Regions from separate parts of the Homo sapiens genome. Here region 2 is linked to region 1. The links come from fine-mapping of genetic effects on gene expression. Tissue or cell type: visceral fat. Region 1 holds a variant in brackets; the other region holds the start of a gene. All regions are shown on one strand. Distances are between the middles of the regions.

Region 1 (4,402 bases):
AAGTCCTTGGGACAAGATGTACCACTGAATCTGGAAATTTTTATATTCATAAAAGGGGAGGTACCCAATAATCAAATCCATTAAGATCTACAGTATAATATATGAGTATATGAATATTCCCAGTAAATGGGATCATAAAAACTATAAATACCTCATGTCAGTGCAAGTCAGGTTTCATCACCAAATGAGTTTTTCACAAACTTACAAAAATTTGAGGGTTTTGAATTGTGGATACAAGTCTACGAGGTATGTGGCATTCATCCACATTATCCAACTATAAACTCTTTAAAGAAGAAGGAAGAAAAATAAATTAATAATTAAAATAATAATAATATCATTGATTAGCTTCTTCTGATGCCCTACATCTATGTTATTCATTCTTTACTACAATCCCATAAGGTAGGTCTGATTATCCTCACTTTTTGGAAAGAGAAGCTGAAACTTTGGCAGTCATAAGAATGCCTATCAAAATGCTGCCTTGGAGATGCTGACTTACAAGTATTATAACCTGGGATAGTCACCAAGAAAGTTTGTGCTACTTTTCATTCAAAATAATCTCTCTATTAATTTGAATAAGAGAAAGGAATAGGGCTGGATTAATAATAATGTGCACTCAAGACAATGATATATAGGCATGGTCAGGTTGTGTGTGTTTGAGTAATGCTAGTATGGATAATATGACTTCAAAAAACTATAAATTTGAATTCTTATAATTCATAACTAGGCAAATATTTAATTTTGTCCCAAAGAAAATAACGTTTTAGGAAAATCAGTAATATAAGCAAGACAGTTGTTCTTATTGGAAGAAACACCAACAATAAAACCCATAAAGAAAAAGACCTATAGATTTGGGAGCATAAAGCCAAAATGTTCCATATTCAATGTTTTCCAATTCAAGAGACACACAGCAAACCAGATAATTATTTGCCAGTCAAGTGGTGAAACATTCTTAATACCTAAAAAAGGAGCACCTCTAAGTAAGCAAGGAAAAATACAAAGATGCCAGTAAAAATGGAGTGTCAAGACAGAAGAGCCAGATCCCAAGCCAAGAGGTTAGGCTGGCCAATGAATACATAAAAATATTTTCAACCTCTTCAGAAAACATAAGTAAATAAAGAGATAATAAATAAAACAATGCCACCTAATATATTATAAAAGATGAACAAGATTAATAATGCCCAGAGTTGGCAAGAATATGGAGATGCATCACATTTATCTACACTTGGTTGAAGTAAAAATTAATATAAAACTTCTATAATAAAATGTGGATTGCACTATCTAAAAAGAAAATACCTTTAGCCCAGTAATCCCTCTCCTGTGACTATATCATAAAAGTATAATTAAACAAGCACACAAAAATGTATGCATGGATTCCTGCAGCAATAGTATAATTTGGAAATAGCCTGTAAGCCTAAACAGGGAGGGTTGGTTAAATATGTTACATTTCCTAGAAAGGAATATAATGCAGCCATTAAAAAGGAATGACATATCTGAACACTCAATAAAAAGGAATTTTGAAAAGCATTTTATAAAAGATAATGTCTAGTTGATTTTATTTTTGTGTTTATAGGAATACTGCCATCAGTAGGGCATGAGTAGGAAATATCTATTTTTTTTTCTCCCTTCAAACATATTTGGTTTGATTTTGCTTCTCTGGACAATTGTCTCAAGTAAGATTCTCCAGGAACTTGACTCTGAGACAGAGTCTAGTTGTAAGATGTTTATCACGGAGAGCCCTTGGGAACAACACCTGTTAAAGAGGGAAAGGGCACAGATTGGACAGGGAGAAGGTGAACTCTGGTACCTGCCAGAACAATGACACCTTGGCCAACTTTAGGGAGCTCTAGAGACAAAATGGTCCCATAATGGACTGAAATGGCAAAGCCTCTATATCCTCTGCCTCAGTCATGGGATCTGGGCTACCCTGGGATGGGTGTGATGGACTTGCTCAGGAGGCTCTCTCCAGCTGAGGCCATCCCCACAGGAGGCTAAGGCCAGGTTTTCTCCTGACAGCACTCCAAATGGCTGGGACAAGAGTTCCACTTAAAGGGGTATCTGCATGGCATTTCATGTGTCCACCACAACAATATCTTGGTATATTTCACTGTTTTTTCATTGTGTTCAGGTTGAAAACATATTTTAAATCTAAATCTCACATCTTAAGTTTTTGCCCTTCCCCTCACTATCAGGTTTCACCTGAGGCTCAGAGCCTAGCTGGAGGTAAGGAAGATCAGTAATCTGTTAATTTAAGTCATCTATGAACCTACTTTTTTGTTTTTTTTGCAGCTCCACCCTACCTCCATAGGCAGCCAAAAGTGGGCTCCTTACAGGATGCCTGGCATGCACATGACTCAAAAGAAATTCCACCACCCCTGGCCTGTGAAGGGGATCACTCCTCCTGGTGGAATTATTTCTCTCCCTGAATGAGACTTTGGGATTCTCCCAGTGAGAGACATGCACCGTCTCTGTGTCTGTGTCTTTAGACTCTGGGCCATTTTCAGCTCTCCCAAGAATCTCCTGTGTTTCAATCAGGGAGCAGACCAGGAAAAGCCTCTGTGTTTTCTTCTATTAGGTTGGTGTAAAAGTAATTGCAGTTTTTGCAATTACTTTTCAT[T/C]GCAGGTCTGTGTTACAATGCAGCAAGCTTCACTTGTGGCAGTAAGGTACAATTTTCCTCTGCTGGCAGGGACCTCACCCTCTCTCTGGATCCTTCACTGGGCTTGAGAGGAGGAGACATACCACAGTATTGCCTCCTCCTGTGAGTTTCCTTTTGTTGAATGATTTTTCCCCAGAAGTGTCTCTAGCCACTCACTGCATAAGGGCTGGAGTGGGTGCTGGATGTTGATAGTGGAAAGCCAGTTGGACATCTTTCAGTAAGAATGCTCCAGCTCCTCTCTCTAGAATGTGTGAGTACTTGTCTTCCATTGTCCTGAGATTTGGGGCCTCAGCTAACACTCTGAAACAACTCAAAGAACCCCATTTAATAGCTAGTTACATGTGTAAAATTGTATACATGCGCACACACACACACACACACACATTAGAAGGGATATTTGCCAAAATGCTGATGTTGGTTGTCTCTAGGTAGTTGAATTTAGGAGGAATTTTCTTTGTTCTTTAACATTCTATTCTAAACATGTGCTGTTTTTTGAAGTCAGAAATGAAAAGGGGAAAGAAAGAGCACCAGGCTTGGAGTCCTGCGTCCTTGGATGCCTGTGTCCTGGTCCTGGATGGGCCATCTAACAAGTTCTATAGCCTTGGGAGAATGATTTAAACTCAGTGGTCTCATCCATGAGTTAATTTAATTAGGTTAGAATAAACTATGACCTGAAGCCGGAAAGAAAACCAGCATGTTTATTCATGGCCACCAAAAGTTGCAGAATAAATATTGTACTTATGATAAGTGTGTTTCTTTATTAATCAGATACATACCAAGTAATTGCAGTGTGCCAAATGCTCGGTTGAAATAAGGACCCAGAGATAAATGAAGCCAATACCTAGACTCAAAGACCTCCCTGTCCAGTATGGAAGACAGACCTGCAAATAAGCCCACTGACAATTCAGTGTGGTCAGAGTAGTGACATCAGCATGTGGAAAGGGCAGATGAATTCTAGGAGGCAGGGGAGATTAGGGATCACTTTCTTGATCAGTGATACTGGCACCAAAGTGGGTTCTAAAGAATGAGGAGGAATTTATAAGATAAACACTAGGATACTATTAAAATCACTCGAACATTTTGAAGACAAATAATATTGTAGAGGGCATTTAAGGAGAAATCCATTCTCCTTTGATGTTTTCCAGCTTAATCATTCATAGTCTCTTCCGAAACTCTTCCCAACTGAATCTCAATGCCTTCCTGCACGGTTCATGAAGTCTAAGCATACATCTGTTTGTAGAATCTCTGCAGTGAAGAACACACAGTTCTCAAGTCTCACTTTGGTCCTACTTGCTTTCTAATACTGAAAATGCTAAGTAAACAAGATTCTTATCTGATTATTAAGACATTCACAGGGTTCTCTAAGACAAGTGTCTCCTCTTCCCCTCTAACCCCACAACGAGTTCCTGTTGGTGGAAACTTGAAAATAATCAAGCCTAATTTCTTAAAATTATTCTAACTCTTGAACTTTTCCCCGATTGGCCTCCCTCCATTGGGACGACCTAATGAGAGTGATTCCGTCGATGCATGTGGAACCATGGCACGGAGCTGGCACACAGAGAGGGATCTACATCACATCCAGGTTAATGATGGGATTGGGACACATGTGGACGCTACAGAACTGGTAACCAGGATGCAGTTAAATAAAGATTCTCTCAATATTTGTTCAACATTGATTCAACAGAGAGACAGGAAACTGCATGGAAGCTGGGGGCAGCCCTCCACCTCTCCATTAATGTTCTAAGTGAT
Region 2 (4,402 bases), 68 kb before region 1:
GGTTTGACGGGATAACAAATATCAACAAATGAGAGCTAGGTCAGGAAGAAAACCTGGTAGAAGCCACACAATATTTGTGCAATAGCCACAGGTATTTGTGGGCACAGGTGAAGCACTACTTTGAAGGATAACTTTTAGTGGGGACAAATTCCATTTTGAGAAAGTAGGAGACTAAAAGATAAAATTTTTATAATTATGACTCTATTTGTAGGTGAGGCCAGCTTGGATTATGCTAATAATAAGGTATACACTAATACTGGTTACTTTCTGAAGTTTATGACATAATTTTAAATATAATTAGAGACGATTGAAGATTACCCCTATAATGACAGCATCCTTGCATATTAGTTTTTCAATATCTTGAGTGATAAAAAATGAGGAGGATGTGAGATGTTGTGCTGGGAAGTGCACATAGGCCTCAGACTGTCCTCTCTCTGACAGCTAAGTCCTGAGTGAGCTCCTACTATGAACTGAAACGCAAAAAATGGAAAGAGCATTTGTTGGGGCCAGTGTAAGTCAACTGTTTCCATCCTTATTCCTTAACTCAAAAACTCAAATAAAGAAAGACATTGTCAATTTCATGAGCGGTCCATATTTTTTTCTATTGACGAGAGACAAAGAATAACAAATAAAAGTATTTTATAAGGATATGAGTTATAAAATTAACTTTTTGTTATCTCCAAATTGTTATTTTGCAAGGAAAAAAATATAAGTAACAAATATGAGTATTCCTTTTTTTGGATCCATATTTGGCTGGATGCAGCCTGGACAGGTGTCATGGTTATAGATTATTGTCATGTGTCTCAGTTGTGATTTCAGTATGCTTATTGCTAGTTCTTTTATTTTGCCAATGGCTACATTTTTAATAAAGAAAAAGACAAGGATAGATGAGGAAAATATAGAACATTTTTATCTTCAATGCATGTCAGTAAGAATGATGCTATGAAATTTCAGTTAATAATGAAATTGGAGCTACAAAGACCAAATCATAAATAAAATGAATTTGCAATAGTGTTACTCATAGTAACACATAAAAATATGAAAATATCATGTGCCATATTTGCCTCTGCACTGAGTTATATCTGTACTTCTGCTTCAATACTGTAATTGGCCATCTCATTTCTATTGCCTATGGAGCAAAAGTCTGAAATAAAAAAGGTATGTTCATATTTATTACTTATATTTTTTTCCTTGCAAAATGACAATCTGGAGATAAAAAAAGTTAATTTTATAATTCACATCCTTACAAAAGAATTTTATTTGTTATTCTTCCAAAGGAAATCCACATGCCATTTACTTTATCTCTCACCAATAAAAAAAAATATGGACTGCTCATGAGACTGACAATGTCTTTCTTCATTTGAGTTTCTGAGTTAAGGAAACAAGGATGGAAACAGTTGACTTATGCTGGCCCCAACAAATGCCCTTTCCATTTTTTACTTTTCAGTTCAGCTAACATTTATTGACAGCTTTTACTGTGCCAAGCACTGTGCTAGATGCCAAGGATACAGAAATGATTAAAACACAGTTCCTTCCCTCAAGAATCCCATGCTCTGATGGAGGAGGCGAACAAGTGCTTTAGGCCAAAATGTAAAACTATGAGGGCACCAAAAAGGGAGTGGTTTATTTTGCCTGGAAAGAAATAAAACCTTCATAGAAGAGGTGACATTTGAAAGGGGCCTTGAAGGAAAAAAGGGAAGGTCGGTAGTTGTCTGTATGAAACAATAAAACAGCATAAAAATTCTAAAAGAAAGTTCTGTTTGTATTCTGTGGGCTACCTGTGCAACTGGATCTGAGCATTCCCTGGGGTGGCTGAGGGGGCTGTGTGGACCAGACAGAGCACAGGCTTCCCCGGCCTCATCAGTCCAGGCTGAGTGACCTCCAGTTGCAGGAAGGAGAAAACAGCAGATCCCTTCAGTGCACGGCACCAACACCTCCTATAACGTCAACCCAGGGCTCCGTGTGTCCTCTTCAAGAGGAGAAAACAAGACAAAAAAACAAACAAACAAACAAAAAACACGACAGCAGGGCCTTTCTGCCATTTCCTGGCTCTGAAATGAGGTTAGTGAGTTAAGGAATGAAGCCATCGTGTCTTTATCTGTAAACTGGGGAAAGCTATACCCCCCTCAAGTGCTTCTGTGAGGATGAAAGAGAGAAATGCATGCAAAGCCCCCGGCACATGATCCTAAGAAGTGGGAGCATGGCGATGATGGTGATGATGGTGGCCATGCTAAGGATAAAGGACGGGTCTGGTCTCTGGGCTGCCTTGGGAAGCCTGAGCATCCCACGCGGTGGGCAAGAACAATGTGATCTTGGCTACCCTGGCTCCGACCCAGAGGGACTTCCTGCCCATCTGCACTTCCCTTGCCGTTGTCCTTGTGGCTCAGGTGGTGCAGGCAGCTGCTCCAACTGCTGCCTCTGGTGCCCTGACAGCTGCAGGCAGCCAGGCAATGGGCTATGAAACCGAACCTCAACTGGAAACTATCCGCCCTAAATAATCCCAGCAACAAGGGCCGTCTCACTCCTCTCCCCTGCCTTCCGCCATCCCTGTTTTCACCTGTTGTGGTTTCCCTCTCATTCCACCAGCATTTTCTTTCATTTTCTCTGCCCCTTCGCTGCCTCTTTCCCTCTCTCTCTGTTCTCCCTCCTCCTCGCTCCCTCACCTCTTTTTTCTTCTCTGCATTCTGGCTGCTCCTCCAGTTCTGGTTTCTCCACTGTGGTGTGGCAGAGGATGTGAGGTCAGAAGGCTCAGGGCCTGCCCGGCTTCTGAGATGCGGGGCAAGCCGCCTCGGCCTCCTGGGATGTGGTTTCCTCATCTGCAGAATTGGACCAGAATGACTCTGGAGTGTTCCTTCCGTTCTAAACTCCCGTTCTGTTACATTGTGTTGTGTTAGCCTTTGTGCCTGCTTTTCCTGCTTCAGCTGTCTCATCTGTCCACCTGCCTCTTCCATCTGCATCCCACCACTCGGGTCCAAGCTGCCAGCATCCCTTGCAAGGACCCCTAGAGCAGCCTCCTGCTATTGGAGGTCTCTCTGCTCCTGTTCTTATCCACATCCAATGTGTTATCCACACAGAATCCACAGTGACCTTATCAAAATAGAGATGAGATTGCTCACTCAGCTTAAATCCTCCAAACTCCTTTACACCCCTTTTCTATCATAGGTCCCTGTTTATGTTCTTCAGAGTAATTATTATTGCCTGAAATTATCTTTATTTACTCATGAATTTCTTAATGTTGATGTATCATTTGCTGTCTGTCTTCCACACTAGAATGCAGGCTCCAGGAGTGATGGACTTGATTGTCTCGTTTACTCCATATCCTCACTGGAGGGGCCAGCGCCTTTATTCTCTCCATAAACACTGAATGAAGGAACCTCCCTTTGCCGCAGAATCCATCTCTCCCCTTCTTGAGAGTATTCTCTCCTAACCACACCATTTCTTACTTAGAAATACCTGTGCCTGCCAGAAATCCTGCCCATCCTTCTCTGTCATTTCTGATATAATTCCCCTCATTCACTTTTCTCAGTCAGCCGGGTCCTGTGTTCCCATGGGCTATGGTAAAGAACAATGGCAATGATGAAGCTAGTTCTTCTTTCACTTTAATGTCAATCTGTGCCGTTGGATGCCTTAAGATAAAATAACTTAACAACTCTGAGACTTGAATCTAGTTAATTGTCTTACAATGCTGAGAAAGAGACTTCTTTAAGAAAATATATTAAAACTTCCAAAATTCTGTGCTTGGTTCTTGGGGAGATGTTAGGAGTAGCCATTTTCTTTAAAACACCTCTTTAAAGTAGGTAATGTTAATATGTCCATTTTACAGGTAACAAAACTGGGATTTAGAGAGTGCACAACTGGACAAGGCCATAGAGCCAGAGGTGCATGGAGCCAGGATTTGAATGGAAGAAGTGCAACGCCAGACCCAGGCACCTAGCCACCACATGGGTGACCCTAGTCACCCTCTCACTCCCTAGATTAGATTACTCTGCATTATTTTCACCATAACACTTATAAATACCTGATGCGATCATATTTCTTGTGTCTATTTGCTTCCATTATAACATAAACTCCATCCAGGCAGTTACCATATCTGACCTGTTCACTGCACTTATTCCAATACTTACAATAGTGCCTCATACATAATGGACGTTCAATAAATATTTGCTAAATGAATTAGTTATTTGCATATTGAGGATGAGATATGAAAGAAGGCCTGATAATTCTGTATATAAAACTCCATCTTAGCCAGGCACTGTGGCTCACACCTGTAATTCCCAGCACTTTGGGAGGCCAAGGCAGCAGGATCGCTTGAGCCCAGGAGTTTGAAACCAGCCTGGTCAACATAGACCTCATCCCCACACAAAAAAAAATAATAAATAAAAAATAAAAAATTAGCCAGGCA

What was found. PIP is the estimated chance that this variant, and not a neighbour inherited with it, causes the effect.
Region 2: it holds the start of HMHB1, and the variant in region 1 is the best candidate, but not a certain one, in a credible set for the expression of HMHB1 in visceral fat (GTEx, PIP 0.88).

Annotation. Positions count from the first base shown.
Region 1 is chr5:143,742,713-143,747,114 of GRCh38, reverse strand. No RefSeq gene overlaps it. Among named protein-coding and RNA genes, the nearest start is that of MIR5197, 65 kb to the right of the region's middle. The variant T/C (reference allele first, on the strand shown) is at 2,615.
Region 2 is chr5:143,810,566-143,814,967 of GRCh38, reverse strand. HMHB1 (histocompatibility minor HB-1) reads right to left here and starts at 2,807. Exons shown (of 2, transcript NM_021182.3): 1 at 2,664-2,807. The coding sequence starts at 2,700.